Regions from separate parts of the Homo sapiens genome. Here region 1 is linked to region 2. A link means that fine-mapping ties the variant in region 2 to the expression of a gene that starts in the linked region. Tissue or cell type: thyroid. Region 2 holds a variant in brackets; the other region holds the start of a gene. All regions are shown on one strand. Distances are from middle to middle.

Region 1 (8,099 bases), 32 kb before region 2:
GACAATAATTATTGTGCCTATGGACGAGAATCATTTGCATTGCTACCAATCATCTAGAACTTACAGAGTTGCAGTGTAGCTCGAAGACAATAAAAGACCTGACACCCCATTGAATCAGATAATCCAGAAGGCTGTGCTTAGACAATGCCTAGTTTTGCATTGAAAACACCTAGTAATTTTTTTTATTCATCTTAAAATCTTTCAGTTTTCAGAAGTGGGCCACGCATCTGGCTCTGAGCTTCCTAGCAGCCAAATCAAAGAGGAAACCAGCTTCAAATGTAGTGTCTATGTATACTAGTCGTTCACAATAAGTTCAGCTTCTCACTGCATTGAGACCTGGTTCTCCTTCCAGAGGGGCCTCATCAAGGGAACTCAAGTGATGTAGAAAGCAACATCCTCAATAATATTCTTGCAGCAAATACAGTGGTGACACTTGTGGAGCTGTGTCCATAGGCCAGGGCAGTGGCTCTGAGTGTGGTCCCAGGACAAACAGCATCAGCATCACTTGGGAACTTGTTAGAAATGCAGATACTCAGGCCCCACCCCAGACTTACTGAGCAATCTGTGTTTTAATAATCCCTCTGGGTGACTCTGATGCAAGCTGAAGTTTGAGAATCATGGGACAAGAGTTCTCAACCCTGCAGTCAAACGTTAGAATTACCTGTAAGGCTTTCAAAGGACATGATGCCTGGGCCCACCCAAACCAATTCATGCAGGATCCCTGTGTGCCACGCCGGCTAGGTCTATTTCTAAAGCTCCCCAGGTAGTCGTACCATGAAGCTAGAAGGGAGACCCATTGCTGCTTAGTTGTTTAATGCAAACTGATTGGCCAACAGATGTGCCATCTGCTCCAGAGAAATCCAGACCTTTACTTGCAAAGCTTATAGGAGAGGGCGCCTTCCTTCTTTCCTTCTTCCCTTCCTCCCTCCCTTTCTTACTTCCTTCTATCTTCAACACTGAGCACTACCGTGTACATGGCAGAGTCCAAGGGTGCATTAGACAGGATAGGTTCCTGATCCTGAGGAGTCAGCACCTAATGAGAGCTTTGAAAGTAGTCTAGTGGGAATTCCAGGCAGGCAAGGGTGTCGGTGATGTGGACAGGATGGTAGGGCAGCCCTCGGTCCATCCCCCATCCTTGTCTGATGCTGCTTTTCTTGGCAGGTTGTGAGGGGATGTGGGACAACATAAGCTGCTGGCCCTCTTCTGTGCCGGGCCGGATGGTGGAGGTGGAATGCCCGAGATTCCTCCGGATGCTCACCAGCAGAAATGGTAACCACTCGGCCCATGGGGCCTGGCGGACAGGCTGAGGGGTGTCCCTCTGGGTGGGGCCTCAGCTTAGAGGCAGGAGGCCAAGGAACCTTCTCTGAGGACAAGTATGGGTACAATGATGGGGGAGATCACTGCAAAGGATTAGAAGCCTTGCTTGGGAATGTGGGGTGGACTCAAATTCTGAGGGTGTCAAGCAAGGGGGCAGGAGGCAGTGCACTGGGGAAGGCGATAAGGGAGGCTGGGCCTGCTTCTGTCTTCCCCAGGCCCTTCAGCTAGGAGCTCTCTTCCTTCCTTCCATGTTTCTGCCCCCTTAGCAACCAGGGGCCTTGTTCCAGTCCCCATGTCTGGAACCCCTCCTGGTAGTGGCAGGCTCCCTAATGGCCTGGCCTTCCAAAATACTTCCTTCCACTGTCAGGCCCTGCTGAGAAATTGGCTCCCTGGGAGCCCCTGGCCTCCTGGGGCGAGGGGTTGTCTTACCAGAAGACAGCTGCGGATTTAAGAATTTTCCTAGTTGACTCACATTGATTAGAAGTCGACCATGCACTGGACATTTTTATATGTACATACGGGCTCATTTATTCATCATAAACCCCCTGCAGATCACAGGACTTTTCCCTTGATCCAGTAAAGAGTAATAATAACAGGGACTGAGAAAAGCTGTGCAGCTGCCCCTCTTTCCTGGTCCATGCAGGACAGCAAAGCTGCCAGATGAAGCCTGAACAAGAATAGGTGATTTAACACTAAAACCCACCAGCCTTTCAAAGTCAGGCAAGGCAAAGATGACCACGGTTCAGAGACTGTGGGAAGGGAGTGGAGATTCTTCTCACCATAATTCTGCTGTACATACGCACATGTGTGCACACACACACATATTTGGGGAACATGCTGCTCCCTCGAAGCCTCACTCAACACCCTACACTATGGGAACTGGGGGAAATGAGGTAGACAGGCTTGAAACCCGCTCCTCCAATTCCTGGCTTGGTAATGCTAGCTGCTGTAACAGACAATGCCCCACATCTCAAAGCCTTCATGCAAATTTGTCCACAGAAAGTCCAAAACAGGCTGGGTGCGGTGGCTCACACCTGTAATCCCAGTACTTTGGGAGGCCGAGGTGGGCGGATCTCCTGAGGTCGGGAGTTCGAGACCAGCCTGGCCAACATGGTGAAACCCCATCTCTTCTAAAAGTACAAAAATTAGCTAGGCGTGGTGGTGCACACCTGTAATCCCAGCTACTCAGGAGGCCGAGGCACGAGAATCACTTGAACCTGGGAGGCTGAGGTTGCAGTTAGCTGAGCTCGTGCCACTGCACCCCAGCCTGGGCGACAGAGTGAGACTCTGTCACAAACAAACAAACAAACAAACAAACAAACAAAAAACGTCCAGAACAGGAAACAGGTATTCCTGATTAGCAGGCAGCTCTCCTCTACACGGTGACCCCAGCACCCCACACCTCACAACCGTGGCATCACATAGTTTCCAGGCTGACTGGCGGAGAGGAAAGAACTCGGAGGACCACACAGCAGAGGTTCATAAGGGGCGGGCCTGGGAAGGATCCCACTCTGCCCACATTCCCTCGGCTAGAACTCAGTCACATGGCAACATCTAACTGCAAGGGACCTGGGGAAATGTCTTTTAGCTGGGTGCCAGTCAGCCCCGGGATCCAAGTTGCTCACTGCTGGGGAGCCTCAATTTTCTTGACTGTAAAATGGGGAAAATAAATAAGACCTGCCCTGTAAGGCTGTGCTTGGAAATAAATTTTGTCCCTTCTCCCCTACTCCTCTCCCTTCTTTTCCTTTTTCTCCTTCCCACCTTCCCTCCCCTACCCCTGCCACACACACCCCCGCAAGCTTACCAACTTTACCTGCCAGCGTGGCCCCTCCATGCTTGCCTCTGGGGTCCTGGGAGCTCAGGACACAGGAGATTAGTCCAGATGTGGCGGACCTAGAGCCCCAGGCTGGTCAGGTGCAAGGTCACGCCCAGACTCCACTTTCTGACTCCTGTGCAGTGCTCCTCCACAGCTGACCGGGTTTTTCTCCTGATGGAAAGGACTCGAAGCTCTTCTCCTTTGCAGCCGTCCCTTTTCAGCCTTCCCAGAGCCACAGCACCTCCGCCTCCCGCAGCACTGTCCCTTCTGCCCTGCAGAGGGGATAGGCGGAGCTGGTGCTCACGGCCACAAAGTGACCAGGTGCCAGTCCTGTCACATCCTTTCTCAATTAATTGCTTGAACCCCTCCCTGCCTCATTACGTAAAGGCTCAGTGTCTCCCTCTTGAGGCTCCCCTACCCTTGGATTGCTCATGGTCCGCGGCAGGAAGCTGGACCATGTCCACACAACGTGAGGATGGAAGCTGGGGTCCTGTGCCGACTCTGCTGCAGTTTCTTCTCGCCGCCACATGGTGTCGCTGTGGGCCTGCAGGGCCACACCAAAGGCCTGCCTATTGGGCTCTGGGCTCCCTCCAGGGTGGTGGGGGCCACGTTGTTCATACCCAGCCTGGGGGTGGGTGGCCCAAGAGCACAGGTCAACAGCTGTCTGGCCTCAATTTATCATCAAGAACTCCCACCCACCCCTCCTTCATCCCCATAGATCTACTTCTGGGTCTGATTAGACTCCTGCCCCTTCATCTCCCGGCAGGAAGGCAGGCTTCCCTAGGTGGTGCCCCCAACCCTAACCCCAGGGGGAGCGCCCAGTGAGGACAAGGTGCTCTGGAAAATAAATTAATTCTCCTTGAGGGCACCTACTACATGGGTCCTGACAGGAGGGGTGGGGTCCATGTGACTGGAGAAACCGCAGGCCGATTCTGCCCCCAGATGTTTCTGTTCATGCCAGGCCTAGAATGCTCCCTCTAGGGTGTATTCCTTTGATTCTGAAAAGGACGCTGGTCTTCCAGAGTTCCTTATTAAAAAACACAATTCCCCAGCGGCATCCCCTTGGCCCTCTTTCTCTTCCTACTTAGTGAGGATCTGGCCTTAAAGCGGTCATGCTTCCCAACCTGATTAGGGTCCCGGAGCCTTCTGAAAATCAGATGAAAGCTTTGGACTAGTCTTTCCCCGAACTGCATAAATATATATCTATATATCTATATATTTATATATATGCACATAATATATATATTTATTTTATATTTATAATATAATACAAATATAAATATAAATATCTATTTATATTATATATATAATATAAATATCTACATCTATATATATATATATATGCACAAACATCCTTTCAGGGGTCCCCTGAGGTGCACACTGGCCTGTGCCTGGTTAAGTTTCCCTTACCTATTAGGAATTCAGCCCTGGGGAAGTGGGGAGGCAGCTGCTTTGCAGCTCTACAGAGTGGAAGGCAGGGGGCCCTGCCTTGTTAGCAGCTCTGGGCACCTGGCCTGGGTCACATGCAGCATCTGTCTTGGGAGTCCTGCTGTGTCAGTGAGGAGAGGGCCCCAAACGGGCAGGCCTGCTGCCCTGGGCGAGCCCACAGGGAGCCCAGCCTCTAGGCACGCGCTGTCTTATAACCTTCGATTCTGGCCTTGGGGGAATTTGTGTTCCCTTAACTTGCTTTCCCATCCACCCAGCCTAAATTTGACCACCGTTGTTTCCCATCTGACAACCTAACTCTCTTGATTCAGTTCCAGAAACCTCCCCACCCCTCGCCTAAATTCCAAGATTCCAAGCCCCTCCCACTTCTGCCTATTTTAGAAAGGCCAAAAAGAGAGGGGAGTGATGCCTCGGTGCCCGCTCTGTGCCTGGCACCAGCCTAGGCATTTTCCGTGTGCTCTCATGTTCCCTGCTCACTCTTGCAGTGTGGGTGATTATTTTGTGGCACAGAGAAATGATGCACCGAAGGTCACACAGTGACCAAGAGGCTGCACTGGGTTTCAGACTCAGATCTGGCTGCTTCTAAACCTGCGCTCCAGGCCTCCTGAGCCTCCACAGGGCAGGCATGCCCAGATCTCAGAGGACACGGTCTCCTGGTCCTAGACGCTGCCCCTGAGACTTCAGGAAGAGGGCCCGGTGGGTGGGTAGAACAGTGATAGCATACGCTGTGGCTGGGCATGATAGCTCAATTCTGGGCCTTGGTGTTCTGTCCTGTAAAATGGGCAGCAGCACCTCCTTCAGTGGGGCACTGTGAGGATTAGACCCTAAACCCTGTTAGCCAGGGGCCCAGCCCCTGGAGACTGTGTAAAGAAGCATGCCACGCTCAGCTGGGGCTGTTAAGGCTCCAGTGAGAGCAAAGGGGTGGCAGGGCTCCTACCCACAGGACTCGGCCATCAGCATCCTGCCCCCTGCAACACTTACACCGGCCTGAGCTGGGGAGCCAGATCCCAGCCCTCCTTGGCAGCTCAGAGTACAGAATTCAGCGAGGCCATTCAGCCCGAGGAGGGAAACTCCTCACGGTGGCCTTCCAAGACTTCCCTCCTGGCTAGTGGCTCCCTTCCGCAGGCTGGGCTCCTGCTGTAAAAGCTCCAGTGGGGAAGTGCTCTCCTCTTCCCTATGAGAAGAGTTCAGGGCAGGCTCTTTATCCCCATTCAATTTGCCTTTCTGTCCAGCCAGCCAGCCCGCGTTTGATAAGCAGAGGCTCTGGGCCAGGCACTGGGGAGGCGGGGAAGCCACTGCCCATGTGGTGAGAGGGCCCAGCATGCGTCCTCGTGCCAGGGGTGGGGGGCAGTGAGCAGCTGAGCCGGAGGACTGTGGTGGTCTCACGATCTATTATGCAGAGAAATGCAGAGGGGTGGCCTACAGGTCGTGGCCGAAGGACCCTCCACCCTTCCGTGAGGGGCGCTGCCTGGAGGGGTTCATCTCAATGGCACTCTGGTGGTTTTCAAATGGCTGAGTGAGCAGGGCATGAAGTTCCATTTAAAACAGAACTTCCATGGAGCAGGATGAGTAAAAATGGGAGCCTGAGAAAAAGTCATGATGGGAGTGGCCAGGTACTGGGCAGCCACCACAGATTCTCCGGGGTACCCACCTGTTAAACGGTGGCAGGGCCTGGGATCAGGAGCAGCACCCGGCTGGGGTGAGAAGGGGGACTGGCACGTGGTGTGTGCTTAAGAGCTTGGGCTCTGGAGCCCGAGCCCCAGGGTTCAAATCACTTTCCCCCTATTTACTAGGGTGTGGTCTTGGGCAAGTTCTGGAACTGCTGTGTGCCTCAGTTTCCACACTATAGAGTGGTTGTAGCAGCTACATGTTACAATAGATGTTACTATGAAAATCACAGTGCCTGGGCCCATGGCTCACCTACAGGACTCTTGGCACCCACAGGTTCCTTGTTCCGAAACTGCACACAGGATGGCTGGTCAGAAACCTTCCCCAGGCCTAATCTGGCCTGTGGCGTTAATGTGAACGACTCTTCCAACGAGAAGCGGGTAAGCCTGTCAACCTCCACCCCACGAACCCGGGGACAGGAACCTATAGGGTGAGGAGGCCCTGGGAGAGGAGGCCCTGGGAGAGGACAGGGTGGCACAGGCCTGGGACAGTGGTCAGGATGTAAGGGCTACCCCCTGTCCCCATGCCTCCTACTCACAGAGGTGTCAGTGGGTCTGCCTCACTGCCCTGGTCTATCGACCCGGAGATGATGGTTAGGAGGAACCCAGGCACAGGTAGGAACTGTCGCATACCACCGCGAGACTGGGGGTGCTGTATTCATTCAACTGAAAGAGACGCTAACATAGTGGCTAAATGCTCAGAGCAAGGCTGGTGCGTCTGAATTCCGACCTTGACCTTAGTGGGGCTGGGGAAGATTTAATCACTACGTGCCTCACTTTCTTCATCTGGGAAATGGTGTTAATAATGCTGACAACATAGGCTTGTCAAGAGAACTAAATGAGTTAATATATGTGCATCCTGAGTTGGGCGCCTGGTCACAGTAAGTGCTCAGTAAATGTTTGCTTTTGGCCGGGTGTGGCGGCTTACACCTATAATCCCAGCACTTTGGGAGGATGAGGTGGGAGGATTGCCTGAGGCCAGGGCAACATAGTGAAACATTGGATCTACAAAAAATGTTTAAAAATTAGCTGAGCGTGGTGGTGCGTGCCTATAGTCCCAGCTACTCAGGAAGCTGAGGCAGGAGGATCGCCTGAGCTGGAGAGTTTGAGGATGCAGTGAGCAGTGATTGTGTCGCTGCACTCTAACCTGGGCAATGGAGGACAGGATTGAGCCCTGTCTCTTAAAAAAAAAAATGTTTACAGCATTCGAAGGAGTCTCCCGGCTCTGATAAGCAAGGAGGGAGTCCGGCTGCAGAGCTGCCCTAGCTGAGGGGATGCTCCCTTCGGCAATCGGCTGACCTTTGCTGGGGACCTCCAGAGGCTTCCTCTGAGGGTGGCCATCAGGGCCCTGTCTGGGCTCAGCTCACTCTGCATCACTGTCCTTTCCCAGGATGGCCCTTTCTCTCAAATCTCATGCACACTGTGCCATCCTGCCTCCCACCTGGGCCTTTGCCCCCGTTAGGGCCCCTTGCCTGGAGAGCACTTTCCTCCTCTCTTTTCTTGACTGATTCTTATATATCCTTTGAGACTCCCCTCGGGCCCATCCATGCCAGCCCTTTCTTCCCCTCCCCACGGGAAGGGCTCCCTTAGAGCCTGGTGTTGGCCTCCAACTATTACCTACCATGTTACATTAAAATGATCAGCGTGTGCCACCTGCCTCCATCTCTCTCACTAAAATACATGCTCCTCAAAGGCATTCATTCACTCCACAAACACTCACTGAGCACCTGCTGTGGGCCAGGGTTGGGTCTGGGCAAAATCACGGTGACAAATCAGAGAGTCTTGTTCATTTCCAGGCCCCAGTGCCCAGCACAATGCTTGGCACCTATGAGGTGCCCAATAAATATTTGTTT
Region 2 (8,105 bases):
TCTCAAAAAGAAGAAAAAAACAAAACAAAAACAGGACAAATTAGTGTCCCCCAGAGACCTTCTCCATGGTGTTTCGTGTTTTGAGAATCTGACAGTGCCTCAGATTACTTGGTGTCAGATTCCTGGGGACCTGGGATAAAGTTGCCAGGTAAAATACAGGATGCCCAGTTACATTTGAATTTTGGATAAACAACAAATCGTTTTTCAATATTTATACCCCCACATGGTGTCCATTGTTTATCTGAAATTCAGATTTAACTGGGGATTCTGTATTTTTATTTGCTAAGTTTGGCAACCCTAATCTGGGAAGAAAATACAAGAATTTGTCCCTACAGATATTTATTATCTAGCAAATGAGAAAGCCGGCTTTGCTTGTATGATGTTAGACATAGAGCAGCAGTGATATAGGCACGTAATTTATAAATAAAGTTAATGGTGTAGGTACCGTTTTTTTTTCTTTTTACTGATGGAGGTGCATGATCAGAAAGTTTGGGGCTTTGCCATGAGTCAAAAATTGTTGTATCTGAGTGATGGATATGAGGGAGTTAGAAACTTTCAAAATAAAAAATGAAAACAAAAAAGTTTGGGGTACTGCTAGCCAGCCTCAGCAGTCAGTCCCGAGCTGGGGAGTGGCACAGCTGTGTGCCTACAGGAGGAGAAAGGGCGCAGGGAGGCAGAGTGGAGGCTACAGGCTTTCTGTGTCCCCAGGCGCCTGGCCAGGTCCACTCTCCTGCTGATCCCCCTCTTTGGCATCCACTACATCGTCTTCGCCTTCTCCCCAGAGGACGCTATGGAGATCCAGCTGTTTTTTGAACTAGCCCTTGGCTCATTCCAGGTAAGTTTCCAGGACTGGGGCTGCCAGCTGAAAAGAGGAGTTCTCTGTGTCCTTAGGGAGAAGTGGAGGGCATAGAGACTGCGAGCCAGATGCCTTATCTGGCAGAGACCCAGGGGAAGAAGGGGTCGGACCTGACAGTGCTACAGGTCCCTGAGTGGGATCCCTGGTCCCCACCAGTCAAATGGGGGTGGGAGATAAAACTAAGAGAGACAGAGAGACTGACTTCAGGGAAAATAAAAAGGAAAAGTAGCCCCAGTACACTATATTGTACAACTCTCAATAACATATACATGGTCAAAATAACGTAAGCGCGGATGGCCAAGTCATCAAACACTGGGGCGGGAAGATGAGCCTCGCGGGAGCGTGGGGCGGGTGTTTGGAAGAGAACACTGTCCTCATCTTCACACTGGGAAGTCCATAGAAAATGCCCTAGACTGAAAACTCCTCAAGTGGCGACACCAGCATATTTTTTAGAAGCAGTTAAGAGAGTTTCAAGGAGCAGTCGCATGTGAGGAAAAGGAAGTGAGGGTGGGGTGTCAGGAGGCTGCTGGTTCTGTAACAGGAATCCTTTGATTCTCTGAAACCATGTGCATATGCAAATTATTAAAACTAAAAACTGACTTTAAAAAATAAAGTGAGGTGGAAAAGCGCTTACCTACTAATTCCACAAGATGCTGTGAACTTAAAAACAACAACAGTAAACGTGTTTGGGCAGAGGGAGCCTGAACGTGAATCCCAAACTTCACAATGCCGTTTGTTTATTTACTCATAGCTATTTCCTTCCAAAAATAATGCAATGTCGCTTTTGGGAAAAACATACAAAGGACAAAAAATAAGTCGATGAAGGATCAGTGAAAAAAAGAATGTACAACTGGTTGGGTTGCTACACAGAAACAAATACGATAAAGTTCTATACAGGAGGGAGAGATGGGTCATAAGTATGATAGGGAGCTTCCCAGTAGCCAAAGCAAAGACAAAACAATTGTTTCAAAATTTCGCATATCCATAAGACAAAATCAAACTAACGGCCGGGAGAAGCCAGTGATTATAGGCTCTAGGCCTGAGACAAAATTCTCCCAGTAGTTTTTTTTAAAGGACTTAGTCCTTAACGACATTTCCACGGTAGGGCGATATTGTCCAGCCAAGCTTTCACTGGGGTGGCCTCGGCCTGCGAGCAGGGGTTCAAACCCTCCCCTCATCCCTAGAGCTCTGTTCAGGGTAGGGTCTTCCTGTTACTTACAGGTTCTAGGGAGGATGCCTCACTGGGGACACATCACTGAGTGGAGTCAGGTCTTGCCCTACCCATACCTTCAGACCACACCCTCCCCTAAGCTGGCCCTCTACCCAGTAACCCGTCAGTGCCCCAGACCTCCAGAGAACTCAGCCTCTGGCTTAATCCAGGATTCTTTTCCTCTCGGCCTGGGGGCCAGGGAGCTAGCTTTCCTCACCACTGCTCTTGTAACGTCCAGGGAGGCTGGGCACACAATGGCCCATCTAGCAGGTAGAGGATTTGAGGACCAGTCGGGTGGAAGGACTTGACCTGGCTCAGAAAAGGGACCATGCTGAGAGCTTGGACCCGGGTCTGCCTGGCCATGGATGGGGACTTCCTGTCCCTCAGAGTTGGGGCTAATGGTTGGGACTGTGGACTACTTCTCTAGGAAAATGTCTTGCCAAGAGAAAATCAAAAGCACTTTCCTGATGTTCTCATACGAATGTTGATGAAGAAAAAGGATCTTTTAAAGTTTTATACATATATATGTATATATATTCGTACGAATATATGTATATATATTCGTACGAATATATGTATATATATTCGTACGAATATATGTGTATATTCGTACGAATATATGTATATATATTCGTACGAATATATGTGTATATATATTCGTACGAATATATGTGTATATATATTCGTACGAATATATGTGTATATATATTCGTACGAATATATGTGTATATATATTCGTACGTATATATGTGTATATATATTCGTACGTATATATGTGTATATATATTCGTACGTATATATGTGTATATATATTCGTACGTATATATGTGTATATATATTCGTACGTATATATGTGTATATATATTCGTACGTATATATGTGTATATATATTCGTACGTATATATGTGTATATATATTCGTACGTATATATGTGTATATATATTCGTACGTATATATGTGTATATATATTCGTACGTATATATGTGTATATATATTCGTACGTATATATGTGTATATATATACGTACGTATATATGTGTATATATATACGTACGTATATATGTGTATATATATACGTACGTATATATATGTGTATATTCATACGTATATGGGTATATATATTCATACGTATATGTGTATATATATTCATACGTATATATGTGTATATATATTCATACGTATATATGTGTATATATATTCATACGTATATATGTGTATATATTCATACGTATATATGTGTATATATTCATATGTATATATGTATATATTCATATGTATATGTGTATATATTCATATGTATATGTGTATATATTCATATGTATATATACATATGTGTATATATTCATATGTATATATACATATGTGTATATATATATAAGAATATGTATATATATTCTTATATATACACACACATGAGAAAATGTTTTTCATATACAAAAGTGAAGAGAATAGGACAATGAACCCCATTACCTATCCCCAGCCTCAGCGGTATCCACTCATGGCCTGTTTGTTTCATCTCCATCCCTACCTACTACCCCCATCTTTTTAAGTAAATTCAAAACATCATGTTATTTCATCTTCAAAGAGTTTAGTGTGCATTTCTAAAAGACGGGGCTTAAAGAAGAACACATACAACTGTAATAACACCATCACTGTCATATACTCTTTAAAAATGTATTTATGGCCGGGCGCGGGGGCTCACGCCTGTAATCCTAGCACTTCGGGAGGCCGAGGCAGGCGAATTGCCTGAGCTCAGGAGTTCGAGACCAGCCTGGGCAACATGATGAAAGCCTGTCTCTACTAAAATACAAAAAATTACCCAGGCATGGTGGTGTGTGCCTGTAGTCCCAGTTACTCGGGAGGCTGAGGCAAGAGAATTGCTTGAACCTGGGAGGCAGAGGTTGCAGTGAGCCGAGATCGCGCCACTGCACTCCAGCCTGGGTGACAGAGCGAGACTCCGTCTCCAAAAAAAAATATGTATTCACTCTTTCTAATTGTATAAATAATGCTTGCTTATTGTGAATAATTTGGGAAATAAGGAAAAGTTTTTCAAAAAAAGAAAAATAATAAGAAAAAAATCTAGAACGTCATAACCCAGAAATAACTTCTGTTAAAGTGTTGGTGTGTTTACTTC[C/T]GTCTCTTTTCTTTCCACAAAGATACACACACATAATTGGGATCATGATGTGTATGGTTTTGTATCTTGCTTGTTTTGTTTAATTCTCTATCATGCCCATCATGAGCATTTCTTCATGTCATTAAAATTCTTCAAAGTCTTCATCCTTAATGATCGCAGAATCACGGTGGAAATTAGTAAACTTGCTGGCTTGTGTGAGGCCTGCCCTATATACACTGGAGCACAGCTAACTCCCTCCCCTGAACAGTGAAAATGTGTCCCTGGACCCTAGCGCAGCGGAGGCCAGGCAACCCTAGCCCATGCAACGGGCAGCATCCTTGGCCTGCTCGTGGCTCTGGGCCAAGCACACAGAGCTCCAGGCATGCCTAAACCCCTCCGTGCCTCAGTTCCCTCGCTTGTGAGGTGAAGATCCTCCCACCTGCCTCCGAGAGCTTTGGCGAGGTTAAATGAAGCACCTGGGACCTACAATTACTCAGGCCTAGCTGTGCTCCGATCCAAGTCTGTTTCATTTCAAAGCCTGCCTTGAAGTGCCTTTTACTCCCTCTCTGACAGTAGTTCCCGGACCATGATGCCCGTTTTTTGGAACTGTGTGGGGATCTTTAAAAGCTGCTGATGCCCCCAGCTACTGGGATCTGGGGAGTGCAACCTGGATAAAAGGTCCCAGGTGATTCTAATGTGCAGCAATACTTGGAAACCGATGCCCTGAGTGTTTCTGCCCCTCAAATAGTCCCCAGTCTATGTAGCAGTCATTGATACCTGAAATTCTAAAGCAAACCCTTCCAGCTTCGCCACTAACTCTTTTTAAAATGCCAATATCCCTGAGAAGTTGTACATATTAAGCCCACCATCGATGAGCTGATTCATCACCCTTCGAGGTTCCTTTCCAATATCATAAGTAGCTACAGGCAGGCCTGGGTGGGACTAGGGAGGAGGAGTTGGGCCATCTGAGGTCAGGCCTCTGTGTGGGGAGGGCAGGCCCGTAAGGGAGAGAAGGGTGGCCTGAGGTGGGTCCCTGAGAAAGGAGAGGAGCAGGGTGAATGCGCCGCAGAGACACTGCTTCCTGCTGATCTGGAGGCCTCTTAGGCTCCAAGCAGGCGCCCCAGCCTGGAGTCCCTCCCCTGACAGAGCTCCACACCAGGATCCTGGGGGCACCATCAGGAAATCAGGAGCTCCAAATACCAGGGAGGGAGGGTCTTACAGGCACAGACCTTGCCACACCAGGGAACATAAAACTCTGAGCACGGAGGTGCACCCACCTGTCCATTAAGCAGGGAGCTCCAACCCTGCTCACCACTGGCTGGCCGGGACCTGTACATAGTTTGTTCTGCCTACACATTTGTTTTTCAATTTGAATTAGTTATCTACATTTAAACATATTCAGATTTCCAGTTTATCTTGAAATAAGACCACACAGGGCCCAGGGTCTCACCCTGGGCAGCCTGCACTCCTCCTGGCAGAGTGGGCGGACTTCAGGTGCCACCCATCCCTGTGGCTCCCAGGTGAGCTTCCTGATCCCGGCTGGCTGGGTTAGCAGCCCCCCTGACACCATATGTGTTCAAAAGGGAGCCTACCCTTGGCTGCAAGGAGTTCACAGTTTATGCTGGATGAGCCAGCACAGCCAGGGCCACCGTGGGCAGCCCACAAGAGGTAGCCTAATTCCCAGTGAGGCAAGAGAGGTGGGGAAATGAGCCTGTAGCTGGTGATTAAGAGACCTGGGGAGGGTGCAGCTGGCCAGCTGGTTCAGGCCGCATGCTGAGCACCTGTGCTAACCCTGCTACCTCTCTTCTTCTGGCAGGGACTGGTGGTGGCCGTCCTCTACTGCTTCCTCAATGGGGAGGTGAGTAGTCTTGGGTCACCCAGGTACCCAGGAGAGCTCCTAGCCATTGGTTTCCGGGTCAGAAGGAGCTACCTGGGAGGGGTGGTAGGAAGGGGGATGGAAAGGGTCAGAGGGAGTCCTGGGTCTGGTGGCAGGTGGCTTGGCCAGTTCTTTTAGGAGTCTGAATTTGCTTAATGGGAGCAAGGCTTGTTCAAACCATGGCTGGACCCTGTTCCTAGTTTCTCATTCCACAGAAATAAATTCTGTAGGTCTGGACTGGGGTCTGAGAAAGTGTTTTTTAACAAGCATTCCTGGTGCCGATGTTGATCTGTTCAGCAAATGCAGGAGGAAAGTTGGGCAGAACCCAGGTTCCTGACTGCCCTGCTGCTTGCTTAATGGGCGATCTCAGTCACTGCCCTGTTCTGGGCCTCAGTCTGCCCATATGTGAAACGGGTGACTCAGAACTGTCTGCAGCTCAATCCTTAGGGACCTCCAGATGAGCACTGACTCCTTGGGAGACTGCACACTCACTTTGAGGACTCGAGCCTCACATGGAGCATCTGGGTCAGGACCCCAGGCTCTGGGCATACAGAGCTATGTGGTTAACATGAGCTAAGGCTTTCTGTGACTACTGACCATCTATCTGGTTTGTTGCACTTGAATGGGAGTGATCTTTGATGTTTCCCAAAAATCAAATATCAAGCCTAGCTTCAAAGGTTCAGCTGCTGCAGCTGGGAATTGTGAAGGAAATTTACAAAGAGAAACTCCCTAGTTCCCAGATCAGTTCTGAGCTTGGGTGGCTTCCTGGGAATAAGTGGGGACCCATCTTAAATCACTTAAAATCACTGGGGACCCATCACTGAGTGGAGTCAGGCCTTGCCCTACCCACACCTTCAGACCACACCCTCCTCTAAGCTGGCCCTCTGCCCAGTAGCCCCTGTCAGTGCCCCAGACCTTCAGAGAACTCAGCCTCTGGCTTAATCCGGGATTCTTTTCCTCTCAGCCTGGGGGCCAGGGAGCTAGCTTTCCCCACCACTGCTCTTGTAATGTCAAGGGCACACACTTGTCCCAAGGTGCACAAGTCCTTTCTTTAAGACACGATGTAATGAGATTGCAGGTGCATGTGCCCAGGAGAGAGGGGACCCTCAGTAGCTACTGGACATTGGGGCTGGAAACAGTCAATCTGCGTGGCCTGCAGGCTAGGGGACAGGGCAGCTGGGCAGGAGTGGCAGGGCCTGCGTGGAGTCACTGGGGGAGTGAGCAGGGCTCCAGGCACAGAACTGTCCTCTCCTCCTGGGCTGATGGCTGGTCTCCCGGGCAGGTGCAGCTGGAGGTTCAGAAGAAGTGGCAGCAATGGCACCTCCGTGAGTTCCCACTGCACCCCGTGGCCTCCTTCAGCAACAGCACCAAGGCCAGCCACTTGGAGCAGAGCCAGGGCACCTGCAGGACCAGCATCATCTGAGAGGCTGGAGCAGGGTCACCCACGGACAGAGACCAAGAGAGGTCCTGCGAAGGCTGGGCACTGCTGTGGGACAGCCAGTCTTCCCAGCAGACACCCTGTGTCCTCCTTCAGCTGAAGATGCCCCTCCCCAGGCCTTGGACTCTTCCGAAGGGATGTGAGGCACTGTGGGGCAGGACAAGGGCCTGGGATTTGGTTCGTTTGCTCTTCTGGGAAGAGAAGTTCAGGGGTCCCAGAAAGGGACAGGGAAATAAATGGTGCCTGGGATGAGATTCAATCTATATTTGTCCATCCTTTTGCCTTGACACAAGGTGAGGGTGTACGCTCTTGCCTGCTCCCAATGCCTTCCCGCAGGAGGCGGGCTCCTCCCTGGTCCCCCAGCTCAGTTACTCAGGGACCAGATTAGAAGGCCCAGCCAACATGAAATGTTTGCCCTTGGCGGATGCTGTCTGTCTCCTACTGTAACTCACCTGGTTAGCAGCTCTCACCCAAACCTTCAGGACAACAGCTAAAATAATATGATAAAGTCACCACGGAGGCCAGGGAAGCCCCAGGGCCCCCAGTCCCTTTTACTATCCCCCCTTTTACTACCCCCAACAGGGTGTGAGGGGGACACCCCTATTTTTCCTGC

The links. PIP is the estimated chance that this variant, and not a neighbour inherited with it, causes the effect.
Region 1: SCTR-AS1 starts here. The variant in region 2 is fine-mapped to the expression of SCTR-AS1 in thyroid (GTEx, PIP 0.97).

The regions. Positions count from the first base shown.
Region 1 is chr2:119,471,981-119,480,079 of GRCh38, reverse strand. It overlaps SCTR-AS1 (SCTR antisense RNA 1), which reads right to left and starts at 3,626. Exons shown (of 2, transcript NR_147847.1): 1 at 3,122-3,626. SCTR (secretin receptor) reads left to right here. Exons shown (of 13, transcript NM_002980.3): 3 at 1,162-1,269; 4 at 6,524-6,627. RefSeq lists enhancers at 4,759-5,309, 5,860-6,411.
Region 2 is chr2:119,439,489-119,447,593 of GRCh38, reverse strand. It overlaps SCTR (secretin receptor), which reads left to right. Exons shown (of 13, transcript NM_002980.3): 11 at 709-835; 12 at 5,995-6,036; 13 at 7,337-7,751. The coding sequence ends at 7,477. Among named protein-coding and RNA genes, the nearest start is that of TMEM37, 12 kb to the right of the region's middle. The variant C/T (reference allele first, on the strand shown) is at 4,200.